Linked DNA regions of Homo sapiens. The protein of the gene in region 1 purifies or fractionates together with the protein of each later gene. This does not show direct contact. Each region holds a gene or a part of one and is shown in the gene's direction. Other genes may lie near its edges. The genes, in order: TBC1D3G, SERPINE2, KLHL21, LONP2, ARHGEF2 and DROSHA.

The links.
Region 2: the proteins of TBC1D3G (region 1) and SERPINE2 purify together in Homo sapiens (co-immunoprecipitation; one large-scale study listed by IntAct). This does not show direct contact.
Region 3: the proteins of TBC1D3G (region 1) and KLHL21 purify together in Homo sapiens (co-immunoprecipitation; one large-scale study listed by IntAct). This does not show direct contact.
Region 4: the proteins of TBC1D3G (region 1) and LONP2 purify together in Homo sapiens (co-immunoprecipitation; one large-scale study listed by IntAct). This does not show direct contact.
Region 5: the proteins of TBC1D3G (region 1) and ARHGEF2 purify together in Homo sapiens (co-immunoprecipitation; one large-scale study listed by IntAct). This does not show direct contact.
Region 6: the proteins of TBC1D3G (region 1) and DROSHA purify together in Homo sapiens (co-immunoprecipitation; one large-scale study listed by IntAct). This does not show direct contact.

Annotation. Positions count from the first base shown.
Region 1 is NC_000017.11:36,330,384-36,333,883, forward strand, and holds part of TBC1D3G (TBC1 domain family member 3G), read left to right. Parts: intron 1-64; coding exon 65-185; intron 186-898; coding exon 899-993; intron 994-1,377; coding exon 1,378-1,443; intron 1,444-1,906; coding exon 1,907-2,006; intron 2,007-2,376; coding exon 2,377-2,529; intron 2,530-3,492; coding exon 3,493-3,500. UniProt on the Homo sapiens protein: Acts as a GTPase activating protein for RAB5. Does not act on RAB4 or RAB11.
Region 2 is NC_000002.12:224,001,287-224,004,786, reverse strand, and holds part of SERPINE2 (glia-derived nexin isoform b precursor), read left to right. Parts: intron 1-2,864; coding exon of another isoform or gene 2,865-2,886; coding exon 2,887-3,145; intron 3,146-3,500. UniProt on the Homo sapiens protein: Serine protease inhibitor with activity toward thrombin, trypsin, and urokinase. Promotes neurite extension by inhibiting thrombin. Binds heparin.
Region 3 is NC_000001.11:6,596,370-6,599,869, reverse strand, and holds part of KLHL21 (kelch-like protein 21), read left to right. Parts: intron 1-417; coding exon 418-823; intron 824-3,500. UniProt on the Homo sapiens protein: Substrate-specific adapter of a BCR (BTB-CUL3-RBX1) E3 ubiquitin-protein ligase complex required for efficient chromosome alignment and cytokinesis.
Region 4 is NC_000016.10:48,242,868-48,247,099, forward strand, and holds the start of LONP2 (lon protease homolog 2, peroxisomal), read left to right. Parts: upstream 1-1,432; 5' UTR 1,433-1,521; coding exon 1,522-1,754; intron 1,755-1,992; exon of another isoform or gene 1,993-2,136; intron 2,137-4,232. UniProt on the Homo sapiens protein: ATP-dependent serine protease that mediates the selective degradation of misfolded and unassembled polypeptides in the peroxisomal matrix.
Region 5 is NC_000001.11:155,951,048-155,954,547, reverse strand, and holds part of ARHGEF2 (rho guanine nucleotide exchange factor 2), read left to right. Parts: intron 1-1,719; coding exon 1,720-1,920; intron 1,921-2,312; coding exon 2,313-2,432; intron 2,433-2,561; coding exon 2,562-2,629; intron 2,630-2,771; coding exon 2,772-2,807; intron 2,808-3,014; coding exon 3,015-3,065; intron 3,066-3,211; exon of another isoform or gene 3,212-3,275; coding exon 3,276-3,500. UniProt on the Homo sapiens protein: Activates Rho-GTPases by promoting the exchange of GDP for GTP.
Region 6 is NC_000005.10:31,466,094-31,469,593, reverse strand, and holds part of DROSHA (ribonuclease 3), read left to right. Parts: intron 1-1,530; coding exon 1,531-1,655; intron 1,656-3,312; coding exon 3,313-3,412; intron 3,413-3,500. UniProt on the Homo sapiens protein: Ribonuclease III double-stranded (ds) RNA-specific endoribonuclease that is involved in the initial step of microRNA (miRNA) biogenesis.

The DNA of each region.
Region 1 (3,500 bases):
GTCCTCCCAGGTGACCTCAGCCCTCCCAGGTGATGTCCTTCCATGGTGACTCTGGCTCTTGCAGGAGGTGGGCTACTGCAGGGACCTGAGCCACATCGCCGCCTTGTTCCTCCTCTATCTTCCTGAGGAGGATGCATTCTGGGCACTGGTGCAGCTGCTGGCCAGTGAGAGGCACTCCCTGCAGGGTAAGTGAACAGCTGCCCCGGGGACCTCCTGCAGCCAGACCTGGGGATGGCCACCCTGGCCAGGTGATCACAGCTTTCAGCCAAGGCACCCTCCTTGTGTCGCCAGCTTGTTGGGAGACTTTAGGATGTCTCTGCTGAGGGTCCCACAGGAGTCCACGGCTGACCCCCAAAGCCCAAATCAGACGCCTGTCATCCCCATCAGCAGAGGGCATCTCATCCTCCCCGTGGCCACCCTCTGTGTCCTGGAGCCACGCCCTCCGGCTCTGATTCTGTGCAGCTGACTCTCCCCTCCCTGAGAGTCCTCCTGCCCTCCAGCTGCCCGGGCTCCTGCTGCCATCGGTGCCCACGAATGGGCCGACCAAGCCCAGGTGGCAGCATCTCCCCATCCCCTGTTCCCTGGCCCGACCCCACTACCAGGAGATGACCGGGAAGCCCAGCGCCCACCCAGTTCCGGCCACCCTGTCGTGGCCTGAAAGTCAGGCTTGCCCTTTTTGCACCCTGGCCCAGGAGGCCTCCAGGGGAACCTCCAGCCAGGCTCCAGGGAATGTTCCCGCCCCACCTCCCCAGGGTAAAGGCCGCATGTTGGGGTCACCAGATGGGAGGGTGGGAGGCCTTGGGGTTTGGGGGCCTCTCCAGCTGCCCAGCTCTTGCAGCTGATGGCTCCACATCTTGGGGGAAGGCTCTGATTTCATGATGGGCTGGGGGCTTCTCAGGATTTCACAGCCCAAATGGCGGGACCGTCCAGGGGCTCCAAGACCAACAGGAGCATGTGGTAGCCACGTCACAACCCAAGACCATGGGGCATCAGGTGAGTTTATGGTCCCCTCAGCTCTTCCCAGAGGCCCTGCCTCCCGTGGGGCTGTAGGAGCAGGGGGGCTGGAGCCCCTCGTGGGGCTGGTGACTGGCTGAGTCCCAGCCAGGGCCTGACCTGGGACGTCGGGTTCTCCATGGGCTGGGAGTTGGTTTCCTTTCCTGCCCTGGAGGAGACAGAGGCACAGGGATGGGGGCCCAGCTCCCACAGAGCAGGGCAAAGGGCAGTGTGTCCACCGGGAGTGTGGGAAGGTGACAGTGTTGTGGGGAGCTCTGGACACCGCCCAGTGTTCTGCACTAGGGGAAGGGTCTTCAGAGGCCCTGGAAGAGGGAGGTTTTTAGGGCAGCCCAGTGGCCTGAGCACCTCTGTTGCTTCCATCAGGACAAGAAAGATCTATGTGGGCAGTGTTCCCCGTTAGGCTGCCTCATCCGGATATTGATTGACGGGGTAAGGAGGCATAGGGAGACCCTGGCTCAGGGACCTTCCTTGCCCTGCAGTGCCCTGCTTCCCCAGCCCGGGGGTCTGGCTCACTCCCAGCCCACAGGAGGCTCAGGCGGGTCCCCAAAGGACACACAAGCAAAACCCTCTGCCCAAGGGGGGTCATCCCAGGGCCATGGCTGGGGCTCAGGCCCAGCCTCATGGGCAGACTGGGCCAGGACCCGACTTGAGAGGGCTCAGGGAAGCCTCAAGCCCTGGGCAAGCCCCTCTCTCCAGGAGCCACATCCCCACTCAAATGAGTGCCCCCCATGAGGAGCTTCAAGACCTTGTCTGACCCAGCGTCCTGGAGGGCTCAGGCGACCCTCATGGGGAAGGTCACTGACTCTGGAGACTGAAGCCCCAGTGTGCGCAGCTCGAGCCACCAGCCCCAGCCTGGAAGGACCAGGTTCTTTCACACCTGCTGTCCCCACAGATCTCTCTCGGGCTCACCCTGCGCCTGTGGGACGTGTATCTGGTAGAAGGCGAACAGGCGTTGATGCCGATAACAAGAATCGCCTTTAAGGTTCAGCAGAGTAAGTCTACGTGTGCCCAGCGGGGCCTGGGGAGCCCTGGGGTCAGACCCCGACTGGCCCGAGGGCAGCTTCCTCACACTGTCCTCATGATCCGCTGTTCTGGCCCAGAGGGAGGTCTGGCCAGGTGGGCTGGGCAGGACACTGTGACACTGAGCCCATCCCCCACATGACCCAGATGAAAGTCGAGAGTGTGGTGAGCACTTCCCTGTCCGGATCGCCCCCCAGCCACAGTCTCCTGTGTATATCTGGACACCTGGGGTGGCCACAAAAGGATCCGGCACCGCCCAGTAGGAGACTGAAGTGGCCACGGGATATGAGCTGTGACCATTCCCAGGTAACTCCCCTGGCCTGATATCCACCCTGTCCCTAGAGCGCCTCACGAAGACGTCCAGGTGTGGCCCGTGGGCACGTTTTTGCAACCGGTTCGTTGATACCTGGGCCAGGGATGAGGACACTGTGCTCAAGCATCTTAGGGCCTCTATGAAGAAACTAACAAGAAAGCAGGGGGACCTGCCACCCCCAGGTGGGCTCCAGTGCCATGTCCCCTCCCATGTCACCCTCTGGGGTAGTCAGTAGTAGGGGAGTGCCCGGGACCCGCAACCCTACTACCTGGGCCTTCCTCTTCACCTTTTCTTCCTCCTCTTCCTCCTGGACTCTAAGAAAGTACAGGAGGCCCACCGGTCCTCAGGGCAGGCGCTCAGTGCGTGTATACTGGACATGCTGTGCATGCAGGAGGGGGATGTGGGCAAGACCCTCCAACAAGCCCCCTCCCACTTTCCACGGTGTCTCCCTCTCCCCCTCGCAGGGCCCTCCAAGTTACTAGACGAGCCCAGACCCATTTGTGGGAGACCCCGCCCCTCCCTGCAAGCACCCACAGCCTCAGAGAGCAGCAGAGGCCCCTCACTCCTGCACGCTCCTCCAAGGTTGCCAGGACAAGAAGCCTGGAGCCAGGGAGACAAGGGAATCCGTGTCCCTGACCCACAGAGCATTCAGGGAGAGGGCCCAGAGCCAGAGCCAAGAGTTCAGCCAGAAGTGGGAACGGTCAGTCCTGGCATGGACTGGGCAGCCCAGGAGGGCAGAGGGTGACCCACGTCCGGGCCCAATCACCCACTGCGGAGACGGGTCCCCACGTGAGGTGACAAGGGGCTGGGTGACATCCAAGGCCCCTCCCACCTGAGTTCTGACTGGGGGCCGTATCCCAGGCCCAACAGCCCTGGGACGAAGGTGTGTGGCAGGAAGCCCCCAGCCAGTCTGAACCCTGGGGGCAGTCCCAGGAGCCACCCGCCATGCCACGACAGCTTCCCCACGCCAGGCAGCATGCACCCCTCCCTCTGGGATCAGCAGACTACAGGCGTGTCCTCGGTGTCAGGCCACGGGGGCCACACAGAGACCCCGAGGACTCCAGAGACGCAGGCAGGTGGGGCCCAGCCCGGAAAGGCCTGCGTGGGCTCACTGGAGATGCTGACCGCGTCTGTTTTCCTTTCAGCCAAACCC
Region 2 (3,500 bases), on another chromosome or scaffold:
GATGAAGTTGGTCACTGCATTTGGCCATTTGTAAGAAAGATTGTACACAATGTTTTATACTTATGATGACTTTGTGCTATATTAAATTTTAAAGAGGATATTTATTGCTCAAAAGAAAGAAAAGGCAAGAGGGAGGAAGGAAGGGGAGAACACAGTTTCTAGTTTTTAGATGGAATGAATAAAGCTTCCACGGTCATGATTTGGACGCTCTCCAAAGTCCAGTAGGCTCCAGGAAACTCCAGGGATTGTCGTGGCATTAGAGCCAGTCCTAGGTGCCAAAGTCAAAATAGGCCACGCTGGCCCGTTGAGCCCAAGCGGGAGCAGCGTATGTAGGTCACTTACATGTTTTGAATTTAGACGGGCTGAGTTGATACAATTGTTTTACAATGAAGCTCTGGAGAAACACGGAACATTCTAAATCTTTAGAAAAGCGCTTGTTTCACAACATATAAGAAACTTGCAACATCAGCTGGAAGGATGGCCTCAGTGGTTCACAGTGGGGCCCTCTGTGTCGGGGGGCCAGGCAGGGAGTTCTGCGTGTGCCCACAGTCCTTGCTCGATGTGATGGTGGCTCTTCCCTCAGAGAGTGTCTTGAGCTGACCGTGAGGATCAGGATTAAACACAAGCGTTTTCTTAGCCACACTCCATAAACGCTGTTGTGATGCAGGGAAAGATTAATTAATAAAAATAGGAAGTATTTATGAGCCATCGGATTAATCTCACAAGTGTTTATTGAACATCTCCTACGCCCTAGGGTGGGAAGCACAGAAAGTGTGTAGAAAGGAAGGCAAGGAGACACCAAATACGGGGCCAGTTTTGCCTAACACTGTGGTTGTGCCCATGCTTTCCCCCAGAGCACACAGAGACATGATTTCCCCCTCCCTCCAGGTCACCTGTCTCTTAAAAGGCCCCCTTCTGTTTTATTCTCTGCAGTCACCCCTAACCTCCCACACGTAACAACAGAGTGGGACACATTGGCTCCACGGGAGACTGTGCTTAGCAGGAGCTTGGGCCTCTTGGGGAAGAACTGAATTAGCAACATCACGAATGCTGCTTTTGTTTTACCAGCTGCCACTGTTAAGTTCTTACTTAATGAAAGTATTTGCTTTTCCATAAATACATGTAAATTTCCTACCTCTTACTTGTCATAGCCAGAGAAAGCTCTGTGAGTGGTAATTAAGGAAGGAAGCTTCTTTAAAACAAATCACTGTAGTTGAGAACATCCGTGTAAGCAACACCATCCTCAAAATTGATGAATTTACCAATTGTCCTACCCTATTGTAACTTTAAAGCAGTCACTTAAGTTTATTTTAATTAATAATTCTTTAATTTTAAAAGCAGTGTGCTTATGGTAAAAGAATCAAGCGCTTGTGGTTATAAGATAATCAGAGCAACCCGAGGGATTCACTCCCTTGTTTGAAATCCTCCAGGGGTTTCTTGTAACCCTTGGAGTGAAATCCCAGTGCCTTTCCAGGCTCTACAGGACCTTACCAGATCTGAACTCTCCTTCGGCTTCACCCACCTGTCTCCCTTCTTTACGACCTTGATTTCACATCCACACTGGCCTCTAATACACCAAGTTTATTCCCACGTCAGGGCCTCGGCCCTGCTCTCCCTCTGCCCAGCGTACTGTTTACCCATCAGAGTGTGGCTGGCTCCTTCCCCCATTCAGGTCTCATCACGATGTTCCTGCCATAGAGATGGCTCCCTGATCACCCTATCTAATGACCACCCCCCGCACCCTGCCGGCCCCTCATCTGCTCGCATCCCTGTATTTTATCATTGTGCTCTTTATCCTTTTCTGAAAATGCTTTATTGCTTGCTGGCTTATTTTCTGTCTCCCTTCTAGATTGTAAGCTCAGTGCGGGTGAGAGTCTTGTCCATTCAGTTATGTCATATGCCTAACACTTAGAAAAGGGTCCGACACCCAGTGAACCCTCAGTAAATATTGGCTTAATTGGATGAAGGGCACTTATGAGAATTAAATAATGATTAGGCTGAGCATGGTGGCTCACGCCTGTAATCCCAGCATTTTGGGAGGCCGGATCACTTGAGGCCAGACATTCGAGACCAGCCTGGCAAACACAGTGAAACCTCATCTCTACTAAAAAAAAAAAAAAAAAAAAAATTGCCAGACGAGTTGGCGCACACTTGTAATCCCACATATTCAGGAAGCTGAGACGTGAGAATCACTTGAACCCGGGAGGCGGAGGTTGCAGTGAGCCGAGATTGCGCCACTGCACTCCAGCCTGGGCAGCAGAGTGAGACTGTTTCAAAATAAATAAATAAATAAAAATAAAATAACCGAGAATTAAATAATGATTAGTATAGGACCTGGCACATTGTAAGGACCCAAGAGATGGAAGTTTGCTTCCTTTCCCTCCCCACCTCCCCAGGGTGTGTTTTGAAAACTGATTTAATTACACTGTTCTGTCTTAAATATATTCACATGGCATTCAATTATGCTGAGTACAGTCAAGCATACTAGGTGAGTACAAAATGGCCTCGCAGGCCAGGTACAGTGGCTCACACCTGTAATCCCAGCACTTTGGGAGGCTGAGTCAGGCAGATCACTTGAGGTCAGGAGTTTGAGACCAGCCTGGCCAACATGGTGAAATCCCATCTCTACTAAAAATACAAAAATTAGCCGTGTATGGTGGTACACGCCTGTAATTCCAGCTACTCAGGGGGCTGAGGCAGGAGAATTGCTTGAACCCAGGAGGCGGAGGTTGCAGTGAGCTGAGATGGCACCACTTCACTCCAGCCTGGGTGAAAGAACGAGTCTCTATCTGGGGGAAAAAAAAAAAAAGTAGTAAAGTACCCATTTAAGTATAATTTAAATATTTTTTAACTTACTTTTCCAGGTCGTCCTTGGTGGAAGGAACCATGAACTGGCATCTCCCCCTCTTCCTCTTGGCCTCTGTGACGCTGCCTTCCATCTGCTCCCACTTCAATCCTCTGTCTCTCGAGGAACTAGGCTCCAACACGGGGATCCAGGTTTTCAATCAGATTGTGAAGTCGAGGCCTCATGACAACATCGTGATCTCTCCCCATGGGATTGCGTCGGTCCTGGGGATGCTTCAGCTGGGGGCGGACGGCAGGACCAAGAAGCAGCTCGCCATGGTGATGAGATACGGCGTAAATGGTGCGTGTGCACAATTGCTCACTGGCGGAGCCTTTGCCTGAGAGTCTTGTGACAGGAGGGTTTATGGCTTGGTTTTTGCTGACAACCCCAAGAAGCAGAGCAGCCAGAAGGGGATTTGCTGGTGCCACTTGGGGCTTGGGGTCAGTCTCTTCTAAAGAACAAACACTGTGGTGCTGGCAGTTAGGAGAACTAGACTCTGGTCCCTTTTTTGTACTTTTGGAGCTTGGGGTCTGCCACTAGGTCTCCTTTCCCAGGGCTCCAGCCCTCGTTCCAGCGAGGGGGACACTTCCTGGCTTACCGCCTCCATGGCGCCCAGGGTTGAGTTGCGCTGTGATCGTAGATGTGCTTGTGAAGC
Region 3 (3,500 bases), on another chromosome or scaffold:
GCTTGGAGGGTGCCCAGGAAGCCTAGGAGTTAGTGAGCAAGTCCCTGTGTGCCCTGCTGACAAGCTCTGTGGCTCCCCAGGAGAACTGTCCCAAGGCCCAGGGCTCTGGTCTGCTGAGGTGTATGTATGGCTGGGGGGCGGTGTCCAGAGGAGGCTGCTGGATTCTTCCAGCATTGCACTCAGGACCTTTGTTTGGTAGAGGCTTGGCAGCAGTCATCTCGCTGGACAGTGGTCAGCGTGTGCTTTGCCTTAGCCACAACATGTGGCCTGGGCTTTTGGGGAGAGGGTGTGCGTCTGGGGTGAAGCCCAGTGATGTTAATTCCTCCCAAGGCAGAGGCCCTTGCGGAAGTTCGGGAGGGTGCAGGTGGGTGACTCACCTGAGTGGGCTGATCTTCTGCCTGTCATGCGTCCTGGCAGGTGGGTCCGATGGCTCCCGGCTCTATGACTGCGTGTGGAGGTACAACTCAAGCGTGAATGAGTGGGCGGAGGTGGCGCCCATGCTGAAGGCCCGCGAGTACCACAGCTCCTCTGTGCTGGACGGACTGCTGTACGTGGTGGCCGCCGACAGCACCGAGCGCTATGACCACACCACTGACTCCTGGGAGGCCCTGCAGCCCATGACCTACCCCATGGACAACTGCTCCACCACTGCGTGCCGTGGCCGGCTCTATGCCATCGGCTCCCTGGCTGGCAAGGAGACCATGGTGATGCAGTGCTACGACCCGGACACCGACCTGTGGTCGCTGGTGGACTGCGGCCAGCTCCCGCCCTGGTCCTTCGCCCCCAAGACTGCGACTCTAAACGGACTCATGTACTTTGTCAGGTGAGTTCCAGGTGCCGAGCCCCACTGTGTGTTTGGTGTCTCTTACCAGGCCCTGTCTTAAGCACACATCATGGCTGTTCTCCCTTTTCCACAGATGAGAAACTGAGGCCTAGCTGGGGTTGGAGGCTGGGTCTGTCTCTTTGTTTTTGTTTTGTTTTGTTTTTGAGACGGAGTCTCGCTCTGTCGCCCAGGCTGGAGTGCTGTGGCGCAATCTCAGCTCACTGCAAGCTCCACCTTCCGGGTTCACGCCATTCTCCTGCCTCAGCCTCCAGAGTAGCTGGGACTACAGGCGCCCACCACCATGCCTGGCTAATTTTTTTGTATTTTTTGTAGAGACGGGGTTTCACCGTGTTAGCCAGGATGGTCTTGATCTCCTGACCTCATGATCGGTCCGCCTTGGCCTCCCAAAGTGCTGGGATTACGGGCGTGAGCCACTGCACCCGGTCTGTTTTTTTTTGTTTTGTTTTGTTTTTTTAAAAGAAGAGTTTCGCTTTTGTTGCCCAAGCTGGAGTACAGTGGCGCGATCTTGGCTCACTGCAACCTCTGCCTCCCAAGTTCAAGCCATTCTCCTGCCTCAGCCTGCCAAGTAGCTGGGATTACAGGCATGTGCCACCATGCCTGGCTGATTTTTATATTTTTAGTAGAGACAGGGTTTCTCCATGTTGGTCAGGCTGGTCTAGAACTCCTGACCTCATGTGATCCAGCTGCCTCAGCCTCCCAAAGTGCTGGGATTATAGGCACAAGCCACCACACCTGGCTCATTTTTTAACTTTTTGTAGAGACAGGGTCTCGCTGTATTGCCCCGGCTGGTCTCAAATTCCTAGCTTCAAACAATCGTCTCACATTTCCTGCCTCCCAGAGTGCTGGGATTGTAGGTGTGAGCCCCCACACCCAGCCAGGCCTGGTCTTTCGGAGCCCACAGTGCTTGTTCCATTCCTTTGGGTTTAAGGAAAACCCCAGGCTTTCTTAAGCGATTTCACAGGTGGTGGAGTTGAGCTCTTCCAGCAAGAGTAGGCTGTAGGCTGAGCAGCACGGAGCAGAGACAGGCAGCCTGCGGGTCATCATATGTCTGCTGGCCTTGATGACCTGTCTGGTCACAGCCAAATGCTGCCTCCGGCTGGTTTCTGGGCATCAATGATGGCACGGGGCAGCCCCTCCCTGCTGTACTCCGCTGCTTGTTCACATAATCCTGCTGCTCCCTCCCAGCCTAGAGCCTGCCTGAAGCTCTGGGTCCAGGAGGGAAGGGGAAGAACTGAATGACAGTCCCCACTGTGCCCTTTCGTGCTGGGGCTTTGAATGGGGAGCTTGGGGGATGTGAGCTCCCTGCTCCTTGGCCCCCTGCCTCGCACTGCCAGAGCTGCCCTGGCCTTGGCATCTGCCCCACCATCCCCCCAGACAGGAGGCTCCTTACCAGGCTTTTGGAGTGAGCACCAAGAAGAACAGGGGTGGCGTTGCTTGTCACGCAAGTAGCTGGGCACCACCACATGCCCAGAACCAATGGTCTTGCTCTGAGAAAGCCCTGGAATCTCAGCCAGCTCTGGTCCCATTATAAAACATCATCTGACCCTTTGCCCGGCTCTCCCTCCCCCAAGTTGTGAAGGTGTCTTCAAAGAGGGGGTGGAGATGGCTATAAATACAACTTATCAGAGGGCCAGAACCTTCCTTTCGGCCCCTAGGCAGTGGTTCCAGGCCCAGTGTCTTTGAGAGTCCTCCTCCCCTCCCCCATCTGTCCTAGAGCAAGATGTGAAGATGTGCGCCAGGGAGGTCTGCCTGCTGGGTTAACCTTCCCATAGGGAAGCATGAGGGTCTGCCCCGCCACCCCCACCCACTGCTGACCTTTCCAGGGGTTTCCTAAGCCACTTGCACGTGTGGGAGGAGGCAGTGCTCTGGAAAGGCTGCATGCGTTCATCTTACCAGTGTGACCTGTGCCGGAGCACAGAGGAGGGGCGCCCAGGCTCAGCCTGAGTGGAAGCTGCTTGAGCCCTAAAGAGAAGGCTAAGCATGCAGGGGCCCTGCTTGGGGCTGGTCCCCCTGGGCTATTTGTCCCGGTGTCACTTTGTCTGCGCACTTTGGCTCTTCAAGAGCCACATAACCCTCTGCCCAGAACACCACCTGTCTTTGGGCAGCTTGTGCCTAGGACGTGCCATTCTCAGGGAGGCCACAGCCTCAGCCGTTGTCCATGTGACCCACAAATGACCTGGGCCTCCCTCCCCTTGGTTCTGGTACAAAATGCCTCCTTGGCTGGGGTGCAGTAGCCCCCTCTGGGAATGCCGGCGAGCTCTGTCCAGCCTCTGGGCTGTGGTTTGCAAGTCTCTGCTGGGGAAAGACAGGGCAGCCTAGCAGGTTCCAGGGTGTAATCATCATCATCATCACCACCACCACAGGGCCCACAAACTGAGGGTGACTTTGACATTTTGAAATGATTGGGGGCAAAAAATCAGGAATAACATTTCAAGTTAGACGAGATGTAAATGTCTGTCCATGGATAGTTTTCTTGGCACACAGCCAGGCTCGTGTCTATGCATTGTCTGTGGCTGGTTTTGTGCTGCCGTGTCAGGTTCACAACTACTGTTGTTTGTCTTGTAGTATCTTTGTTTCTTTTTTTTGTTTTTGAGACGAAGTCTCACTCACTATGCCTCCCAGGCTGGAGTGCAATAGCACGCTCTTGGCTCACTGT
Region 4 (4,232 bases), on another chromosome or scaffold:
GGGGAACATCACACTCAGGGGCCTGTCGTTGGGTGGTGGGGAGTGGGGGGGAAGGGATACCATTAGGAGATATACCTAATGTAAATGACGAGTTAGTGAGTGCAGCAAACCAACATGGCACATGTATACATATGTAACAAACCTGTACGTTGTGCACATGTACCCTAGAACTTAAACTATAATAAAAAATAAAATTAAATTAAAAACAGAAAAAAAATAAAAGTATCAAGGTTGTAAAAAAAAAAAAAATTGGACGGGCGCAGTGGCTCAGGCCTGTAATCCCAGCACTTTTGGGAGGCCAAGGCGGGCAGATCACGAGGTCAGGAGATTGAGACCATCCTGGCTAACATGGCGAAACCCCGTCTCTACTAAAAATACAAAAAATTAGCCGGGCGTGGTTGCGGGTGCCTGTAGTCCCCAGCTACTCGGGAGGCTGAAGCAGGAGAATGGCATGAACCCGGGAGGCGGAGCTTGCAGTGAGCCGAGATCTCGCCACTACACTCCAGCCTGGGTGACAGAGCGAGACTCCGTCTCAAAAAAAAAAAAAAAAAAAAAAAATTGAGGACTTGCCACAGATTAGAGAACACCTAGGAGATTTCATAACAAAACACCTAGGAGATTTCACAACAGGATCCTGGATATTGGATCCTGGACCAGATCCAATGAAGGACATTAGTGGGAAAACTGGCAAAATTTGGGTAAGGCCTATAGGTTAAACGATAATAATGTTAATTTCCTGGTTTTGATCATTGAACTATGATTATGTAAGATGATAACAGACGAAACTGGGTGAAAGGTATATAGGAACTCTGCTGTAGTTTTGTACATCTAAAATCAATTCGGGCCGGGCACGTTGGCTCACGCCTGTAATCCCAGCACTTTGGGAGGCCGAGGTGGACGGATCGCTTGAGGTCAGGAGTTAAAGACCAGCCTGGCCAACATGGTGAAATCCCCTCCCTACTAAAAATACAACAATTAGCTGGGTGTGGTGGCGGGCATCTGTAATCCCAGCTACTCGGGAGGCTGAGGCAGGAGAATCGCTTGAACCCGGGAGGCAGAGGCTGCAAGCCGTGGGTATCGCGCCATTGCACTCCAGCCTCCGCGACAGAGCGAGAATCTGTCTCAGAATAAATAAATAAATAAATAAATAAATAATTAGTTCGAATCAAAAGTTAAAAACACTTCAAGTATATGTAAAAAATCGAAGAAAACGTTAAAAACACTTCAAGTATATACAATTCAAATAAGATCATCCTTCCAAATATACTCTGTAAGTGAGGCGAAGGTCGCTGCACGCTTGAGTGCACGTCTTTCCGCATAGGTAGGACGCTCAAGTCTTACCGGGAGGCTCTCCTAGAGAGCAGCGCGAAGCCATGGCTTTTGGGCCCGGGGACGGACCGTAGCGCGTAGCCGGAAGCGGAGGCGTGGAGGCGGGTCTGAGGTTTGGTGACTGCGGGGCAGGCCGGGGGCAGCTGTCTGTCTGGCTCTTTTTGACAGCCCCCAGTGCGAAAGGCTGCCAGCATGTCATCAGTGAGCCCCATCCAGATCCCCAGTCGCCTCCCGCTGCTGCTCACCCACGAGGGCGTCCTGCTGCCCGGCTCCACCATGCGCACCAGCGTGGACTCGGCCCGCAACCTGCAGCTGGTGCGGAGCCGCCTTCTGAAGGGCACGTCGCTGCAAAGCACCATCCTGGGCGTCATCCCCAACACGCCTGACCCCGCCAGCGACGCGCAGGACCTGCCGCCGCTGCACAGGTAGGCCTGGCTGCCCCCGCGGCGGCGGCGGGCGGCGCGGCCTCCTCCGGGGACCTGGGCCCAGGCCACGGCCTGCCTTGAGCGCGAGGCTCAGTTCGGGGCGGCCTTCGCGGCTCGGTTCCGCCTCTCTGGTGCTATCACTTGCAAAATGGGGATGTCAGATACCTGCCCCATGACCATGAATGAGATCGTTCATGAAGTAGTGCCTGACACCTGGTGAAACTACGCAGTTCCCTACCGTTCTGGATAATTTAATTTGAATCCTCTTCCCCCTCTCCGCAATTCCTCGCCCTCGGTCTTCAGCCTCCTAGGCCAGTGCTTTTAACTTTCCAGGCCCTTTCTTTCTCCCCGGTGATCTCTGCCTTCACTTGCCTTCGCTTTTCACCTTTCTCCCCACTGCCCTTTACTCCTATCCGCCTCCCCTTTTCTGTCACCCATCATTTTTGTCCGCTGAGGCATTCTCTGCTCCGTGAGTTTTAACTTTTCCTGTTTCATTCCTAAACTGCACTATTTGTGGGTGCCTTTCTTCTATACTCCCTGCCACCCTTCTCCTTCTCCCCCTAATCCTTCTGTTTCCCTTTGTAAAGGGCCTTTACTGCTCACATTTTCGCTGGTCCCCCTTTCTGGAACTTTCCTAGCTTCTCACCTCTGCTCCTTCACTCATAACATTTCTTAGGCCCCAGGCTTACTACTATATTGCCCAGTACCCTCGCCCTATTGGTGTGACTTTGGGTGAGAGCTTTAACCTCTATTTCTTTTATTCTGCAATTTGGAAACTGACAGCATCCATCTCTTAGGCAAGTTATGAAGAATAAATTGAATAATGTGTATATTCCACTTTGCACCATGCATGATGGATGACTTTGCTGTCCAGTACTGTGTAGTGCATGTGGCTCGTCAAATTGAGATGATAGAATTGCCAGTTGTCCTGGTTTGCTGCGATTGTCTGTTTTAGCATTGAAAGTCCTATGTTTTAGCCCCTCCGTCCCAGGGAAACCAGGAGGTTGGTCACCCTAAATGTGCTGTAAGTGTACAATACACGCCAGATTTTGAAAAAACTTTTTGATTAATACATTTTATATGGATTAAATGTTGGAAAGGTAATATTTTGAGTACTTGGGGTTAATAAAATGTTAAGATTTCTGCTGTTTTTACTTTATAATGTGGCCACTAAAATTTTATATGTGGTCCACATTATATTTTTATTGGACAATGCTGGTATATCGTATGCTCTCAACAAGTATCTTCAAACTCACCTGCCAAGCACCCGCCTCCTATTCCTAACTCTACTGGAGGTGTTGTGTTTTCAGTTTAGAGCTTCTCCTTTCCTGGCAGTTATCCCTTATTTTTAAATTAGGGGTTCCTGACTCTGAATGGATTTCCGGAGGGTTGGACATGTCTTATTTTTCCTCAAAATCTTGTGACTATGTACATTTTTTTAGGAGAATCCTTTGCTTTCTTCAGATTCTCAAAGGAGACTGGTACCTCCCCCCACCCCCGTTAAAAGAAAGCAAAACAAAGCAACAAAGACCAACAAACCTTCCACAGCAGCCCAGTATTCATTTATATTGTAAAAGCCTTGATTTTCTCAAGCATGGAAAATATTTTGGCTCCCATCTGACCTGCTTTGGTTATTGCCTGAGTGGAATTGGTCACATTCCAAGTTTCAGTACTCTTTGATAAATTGTATTGGATTCTAGTTTCCCAACATACGACTCTGCTCCTTCTGCTTACTTTTCCCAAATTATTTTGCCTTCTGTGCCCAGGCACACTTAGTTCCCTGTCTAGGCAAGAGTGGTCATTATTAGACTTCATTTTCTTTCTACTGTGCATATGTATTGATTAGCCATGGGCACATTGTGAACTTGAAAAGTCGATTTAGTCACATTTTAAGTTTCACTATTTGTTGGTATTATTCTGGCAAGATTTTGGAAGGTTTTTATTATTTATTCATTTGTGTATTTTTTGAGACAGAGTCTCATTCTGTCTCCTCCGCTGAAGTGCAGTGGCGTGATCGTAGCCCACCGCAACCTTGATTGAACTCCTGGGCTCAAGTGATCGTCCTGCCTCAGCTTCTGGAGTGGCTGGGACTATAGGCGTGCACCACTACACCCAGCTAATTTTTAAATTTTTTGTAGAAATGGGGTCTCACTATGTTGCTTAGGCTGGTCTCAAACTCCTGGACTCAAGCTATCCCCTGCTTTGGCCTCTGGAGTAGCTGGGACTATAGGCAAGCGCCACCATACCCTTCAGGTTTTTAATTTATTTTATGAAAATCCCTCCAAAGCAACAATCCTCAATTCTCCTGCTTGAAAGTAATCACTAATAATCAGGTACTGTGTGATCTGATCCTTGATGTTCATATTATTGCCTTTAACTGAGTAGCAATGTTAAAATTTAATCATTTAAATTAGAAAACATATATTGAAAAGTCTTCATAGAAGTCCGGCATTATAAGAACTCATCAGACCATCTAGT
Region 5 (3,500 bases), on another chromosome or scaffold:
GGGAGGCCGAGGTGGGCGGATCACGAGGTCAGGAGATTGAGACCATCCTGGCTAACACGGTGAAACCCCGTCTCTACTAAAAAATACAAAAAAAAAATTAGTCGGGGGTGGTGGCGGGTGCCTGTAGTCCCAGCTACTCAGGAGAGTGAGGTAGGAGAATGGCATGAACCTGGGAGGCGGAGCTTGCAGTGAGCTGAGATCACGCCACTGCACTCCAGCCTGGGCAACAGAGGGAGACTCCATCTCAAAAAAAAAAAAAAAAAAAGAAGTAGATTGGCTGGATGCAGTGGCTCACGCCTTTAATCCCAGAAGGATTTGGGAGACAGGAGGATCTCTTGAGGTCAGGAGTTCGAGACCAGTCTGGGCAACAAAACATACATAGCAAGACCCTGTCTCTACAAAAAATTAAAAAAAAAAAAATAGCTAGGCATGATGGTACACACCTGTAGTCCTGGCTACTCGGGAGGCTGAGGTGGGCGGATTGTTTGAGCCCAGGAGTTCAAGGCTGTAATACACTATAATTGCACCACTGCACTCCAGTCTGGGTAACAACAACAACAAAAAAAACCCCAACAAGGTAGAATATTATTGCTGTCAACATAACAGTTCAAAGTGGGAAGTGCAGAGTAGTGGTGCAGCTCTGCCATCTTTAACATGAAGTTTTCATCTCTATGTCATGTCTGAAGTGGCTACTCCAGCTCCCACTGTCACACCTGTATCACACCTAGCAAGGAGGAGTAAAGGAATAGAGTTTATACCCTTTTTTCTTTTTCTTTCTTTCTTTTTTTTTTTTTTTTTTTTGAGACAGGGTCTTGCTCTGTCGCCCAGGGTGGAGTGCAGTGGCGTGGCGTGATCTCGACTCACTGCAACCTCCATCTCCCACGTTCAAGTGATTCTCCTGCCTCAGCCTCCCAAGGAGCTGGGATTACAGGCATCCACCACCACTCCTGGCTAATTTTTGTATTTTTAGTAGAGATAGGGTTTCACCATGTTGGCCAGGCTGGTCTCGAACTCCTGGCCTCAAGTGATCCACCTGCCATGCCCAGCCTATACCCATTTCTTTTAAGAGCAGATCTGGAAGATGCTCATATCCATTGGCCAGAATGTAGTCATGTAGCAATATAGTCACGTGCAAGTCAGGCTGGAAAACATAGTTGTTAACTGGGCAGCCATGTGTGCCCAGATGAAACTTCTATGCATTTTCTCATTAAAGGAAGATGGAAAGAATGAACACTGTTGGACAACCTGCAACCCCTTCCACAAATCTTTTTTTTTTTTTTTTGAGACAGAGTCTTGCTGTGTCGCCCAGGCTGGAGTGCAGTGGTGTGATCTCGGCCTCACTGCAACCTCTGCCTCCTGGGTTCAAGCGATTCTTGTGCCTCAGCCTCCTGAGTAGCTGGGACTACAGGCGCGTGCCACCACACCTGGCTAATTTTTGTATTTTAAGTAGAGACAGGGTTTTGCCATGTTAGCCAGGCTGGTCTTGAACTCCTGGCCTCAAGCGATCCACCTGCCTTGGCCTCCCAAAGTGCTGGGATTACAGGTGTGAGCCACTACACCTGACCAACAGAAAGCTTTTTCTTTTTTATAAATGCCAAAATAACAAAATTAAGTCTGCCACACTGCCCCACCCTACCCCTCTCCCCTAGGGCTGTCCTCTACTGGCGCTCTTGCATACCCCTACGTCCTCTCATGTCCTCACTTGTTCCTTATCTGCAGTGGAGTTGCAGCAGAAGGACCGGGCACTGGTGGAGCTGCTGCGAGAGAAGGTCGGGCTGTTTGCTGAGATGACCCATTTCCAGGCCGAAGAGGATGGTGGCAGTGGGATGGCCCTGCCCACCCTGCCCAGGGGCCTTTTCCGCTCTGAGTCCCTTGAGTCCCCTCGTGGCGAGCGGCTGCTGCAGGATGCCATCCGTGAGGGTGAGGGAGCTCCCAGGGAAGAGTCCAGGCTCAAGCACTCACCGTCACAGAATGTGGACATGTGACTAGACATGGACAAACACAGACAAGTGGGATGCCAACCCTATAAACCATAAACGGCCCTGAGTGCCTCTTCTGGGCCAGTTCCTGGGAAAGGCAGGGGAGGAGGTGTGGTCCTTGCTGCTGCTCCATATCGTCCATGCTGCATGGACTCTGCTGCCTCGTAGGCATTTACTGCCCTTTACCTCATCAGTGGTTGTGTGAGTGAAACCCCACTGCCAGTGCAGGGGGCATTCCCCCAGATGCCCAAGTGTCCCACATGTGGGGGTGAATGGCATTCCCCTCAGGGTCCTGTGTCATTCCTGTTCTCACCTCTTCCTCTTTCCCCACAGTGGAGGGTCTGAAAGACCTGCTGGTGGGGCCAGGAGTGGAACTGCTCTTGACACCCCGAGAGCCAGCCCTGCCCTTGGAACCAGACAGCGGTGGTAACACGAGTCCTGGGGTCACTGCCAGTGAGTACCAGGGCAGGGGACCAAGGTAGTAGGTGGGAGGGGCCAAAGTTAGTAGAGTGGTACCAGGGATCAAGTGGTATCAGGGCCCCAGGGAAGTGAGCTCAGCCATCCTTTTCTCCTTCTCAACAGATGGTGAGGCCAGAACCTTCAATGGCTCCATTGAACTCTGCAGAGCTGACTCAGACTCTAGCCAGAGGGTAGGTCCTCAAGAGGTTCTGGGACTTGGCAAGAGGGTGGGAGAGGGACAGCCAGCCTCTGGATCCTCAACACAAAGCTGTCAGGGGCAGGCACCCAGGATTTGTGTGCCTGCTGACTCCCCATTCTTGCCCATTTCTGCAGGATCGAAATGGAAATCAGCTGAGATCACCGCAAGAGGTGAGATGGGAATTGATGGTATAGGAGACTGAAGGGAGGATGTTCTTAGTCTGAGTAGTTAGAGCCCAGTTTGGAGTGGGGTGGGGAAAGCGTCTACATTCAAGTATGTCTCCGGATCCTACTGTCCCCACACCCACCCTTGTTCAACTTTTGGGCAGTTCTCCCATCCTAAAGCTGGGGCCCTGTTCCCACCCTGTCTGTCCTCAGGAGGCGTTACAGCGATTGGTCAATCTCTATGGACTTCTACATGGCCTACAGGTCAGTAGGACAAGGGCTTGAATGGGGAAGGGGAGGAGCCAGGCTAGAGATGCCTGTTTAGGTGGGGCATGGTCATCCCAACAGGCCTTTCTAAATACCCTCCCAATCCAAGCTCTCCAGGAGCGATGATCTGGGCCTTGGAGGGTGAAGGCGAGGGGTAGAAGAGCACAGGGGTTCTGATAAACCCTTCTGCCTGCATTCTACTCCCAGGCAGCTGTGGCCCAGCAGGACACTCTGATGGAAGCCCGGTTCCCTGAGGGCCCTGAGCGGCGGGAGAAGCTGTGCCGAGCCAACTCTCGGGATGGGGAGGCTGGCAGGGCTGGGGCTGCCCCTGTGGCCCCTGAAAAGCAGGCCACGGAACTGGCATTACTGCAGCGGCAACATGCGCTGCTGCAGGAGGAGCTACGGCGCTGCCGGCGGCTAGGTGAAGAACGG
Region 6 (3,500 bases), on another chromosome or scaffold:
GTATCCTGCTGTTTTGTTGTACAAAATAATGAAAGTAATTCTTTGACCTTAAATAGCACGTTGCTACTGTTGATGGGCATTTAAATAATTTTATAATGGATTACATGTGAACAAAATATTTTCCATTTTCAAATTTTGAGAGCAGAGACCAACTTTTCAAGAAGCTAGTGACATTTTGTTTGTTAAATGACACTTAAAAAGTTTGAGGGGTTTTTTTTTTGTTTTGTTTTGTTTTTTGAGACAGAGTCTCACTCTGTTGCCCAGGCTGGAGCACAGTGGTGCGATCTCAGCTCACTACAACCTCCGCCTCCCGGGTTCAAGTGATTCTCCTGCCTCAGCCCCCTGAGTAGCTGGGACTACAGGTGTGCGCCACCACGCCCGGCTAATTTTTGTATTTTTAGTAGAGATGGGGTTTCACTATGTTGGCCAGGCTGGTCTCGAACTCCTGACCTCGTGATCCACCCGCCTTGGCCTCCCAAAGGTTTGAGTGTTTTAAGTAATGTGGGTGAATTCACCCAAGTTTATCCCTTTTGTCACCTCATTGAATATTTGTCAGATGGCTGGCTGGTATCACAGTTGTAGGTAGAGTGACCAGTTTGTCCCAGTTGCTGAGAGATTTCCTGGTTTTAGCATTGAAATTCCTCTGTCCCAGGGAAACCAGGCAGCCAACCAGACTCTAATTGTTGGGCATTGTTGTGGGACAGAATGAAGATTATTGGCCTCTGTGTGAATCAGTTTTAACAGCCTTAGCCTCCAAAGCAACTGAGCCGCAGACTCTACAGTGTGCTAGTGAAAACTGAATCTCTAATTGAGACTGTCCTGAGAGGTGATTATAAGGAAGGAGGTTGCTGAAACCTGTTCTCTGTGATTTTACCATCTTTTCATAAATTTAAGCTTTCAAGATGAAAGCCATTTCACAAATGATCCAGAAGGAATGAGCCATTCACTTCTTCCTTTATTAGACATGAAGAAAAAAATATGAGGCTCTCTGTTAAAATACACAAATGTCCTACATGGACATAATAAAAGAAGCTTAACTATTTGGCCTTTGCACCACTATACTTTCTAACTTAAAGATGTAGAATTAAAGGAATACATAAGATCCACTGAGAACAAGTGAGGGAAAAAACTTAAATAGAGGCATCTGTGCATTCTGAAATGTGAAATTAAAGCAGAAGAGGCTCTGCCTGTGATGTGGAATCCTTCCCCTGTGCCTTCAGAGAGGTTAAGGAAAAGTTATATCTGACTAGGTGTCCTTTTAAAAGTTTAATTTTTAAAGGTTTCTATGTGGACTGCAAAAAAGGACAAAATCATTGTTCATTATGCCAAATGGCATAGGCTCATTTACAAGGATGACATTATAGTTTTTAGATAGTATAGCTGCTGTAATTAAAGGGTTTTAAATGACCTTTTCCCTTTGGGGACAAGGCTTTCCTGGAAAAAAGTCCGATTTATTCCTTCCCTACTTAGGTTAAAGTCAATACATAAAGACTTCTTATGGGAATAAATGGCTTTGATTTTTCTCTCTAGAAACCAAGCTCTGTCCGTATCGATCAACTGGATCGTGAACAGTTCAACCCCGATGTGATTACTTTTCCGATTATCGTCCACTTTGGGATACGCCCTGCACAGTTGAGTTATGCAGGAGACCCACAGTAAGATATTTCTCAGTGTTTGTCTTAGCCAATTTCACCTTCTACTAACAGCCAAATTAGCAGAGAAATACCCTTTAGTGGATGTTTCCTTTTTAAAAATTAAGACCTGAAATGAGCCATACTTCCAATTTAGATTACCCAAATGAAACAATTGTGGTAGCTCCTGAAGAATTATTTTCTGTACATATTTGAGTGCAAGAAACTATTATTCAATAGAATATTTTTGGCAAACTTGGTCAACATAAGTCCTTGTATGTTTTTAAACTTTAAGGAACTTTTTCTTTATTCATCCTTATAATAATAATTATTATTTTTTATTTTTTCAGTGCCCTCTAGAGGAAAGTAGCACATATTGGTTCCTAGCACTGCCGAATTTATGCAGAGTTCTCTTTTTGGGGGCATCTTAAGAGTTCAAGATCACATGCAAAGTCAAGGTTGTGTTGGAAGTAGGAGCCGTGACTTCTGACTCTTAGGATTGATGTAACTTTCCACGTTTTGATTTTTCCAACTGGCATGTTAGTGTTTTCTGGGAGAAGATTTAGGATGTGTGGGAATGGAGATAGTACCATTAGATTCTTCGGGACTGTTTGGATTTCCTACCTTGCTAAACACACAAACAGCTTCCTGACTTATTTTTTTTTTTTTTTTAAAAAGGATTCATAGTGGGAGAAAAGGGCATGGGAGATTTTCAATTCATAAATACAGTTCTGGCTGACATATATTAGAAGAGGCTAAAGGGTTTTGTTCTTTTTTTTCCCCCTTTGGATAAAAGTATGAAGCAGTGAACCAGGCACTGTGTAAGTACTTCTTTCTTTCCTCCATTCTCTTAAAAAAAAAAAAAAAAGTTTTCAAAAAAGGAGAGGCCCAGCTAAGGCCAAGAAAGGAACAGTTTTAATGTGACAGAAAATCTTTGGAAAATCCCTTCTTGTCAGAAAAATGTTAGTAGAATGTGATGAGGCTCTCGTGGACTCTCAGATGGCAGGACTGTGAATTGATAAAGGACTGCATATTCGCTTCATTTCCAGGACGCTTTGACAGTATCCTTTAGACTGGTCTAGGTTATCACTTATTTGGCTGCAACAAATATGCTTATATTGTCATGGTAAATACAAATTGGTATACACCATTAGTCTTTTATCCTCTCCAGTGGACAAATGGATACAGCTATGTAGCTTGGGTTTTGGCACAAATGGGGTTCTCTATTCTAATACTCTTCAACTTATATTTGGTATAAGTAGTTCAGCAACTGACAGTCTCCCTAAGGAAGGGGTCTTTCTTTCAACAAATATCAGAAAGTGTATATTTAAATAAAATCTGTTATTTTCAAGAGGTAACAGTGAGAAACAGGATGATTCCTTTGGTTGAGGTGTTTTTGTGTCTTTGGAATTCTTTCCAGAGATTCATTCATATAGTCACACCTCATTTCCAACTGAAATAAGCAATAATCAACTTAATCACCAGGTTCCAGTTGACTCTTGTCCATCCTGACTCTCAGCCTCAAAGTCATAGCCTTCCTTAGAATGATGGCTTTCTGCCATTAAGAATAATCAAAAGAATGTAATGTATGATTTGAAGAGGCCTCTTAAAATAACTGGTTTTGTTGCATTTTAGGTTTACCTCCTCTTTACCTGAGATGTTTGCCTGTCCTTTTCCTTAGGTACCAAAAACTGTGGAAGAGTTATGTGAAACTTCGCCACCTCCTAGCAAATAGTCCCAAAGTCAAACAAACTGACAAACAGAAGCTGGCACAGAGGGAGGTCTGTATCAAACTCCATTCCTTGGTGATTAACGATGATGTGCTTCAGGTTTATTTCGTGATTGTTGTATCACACTATACTTCTGGTA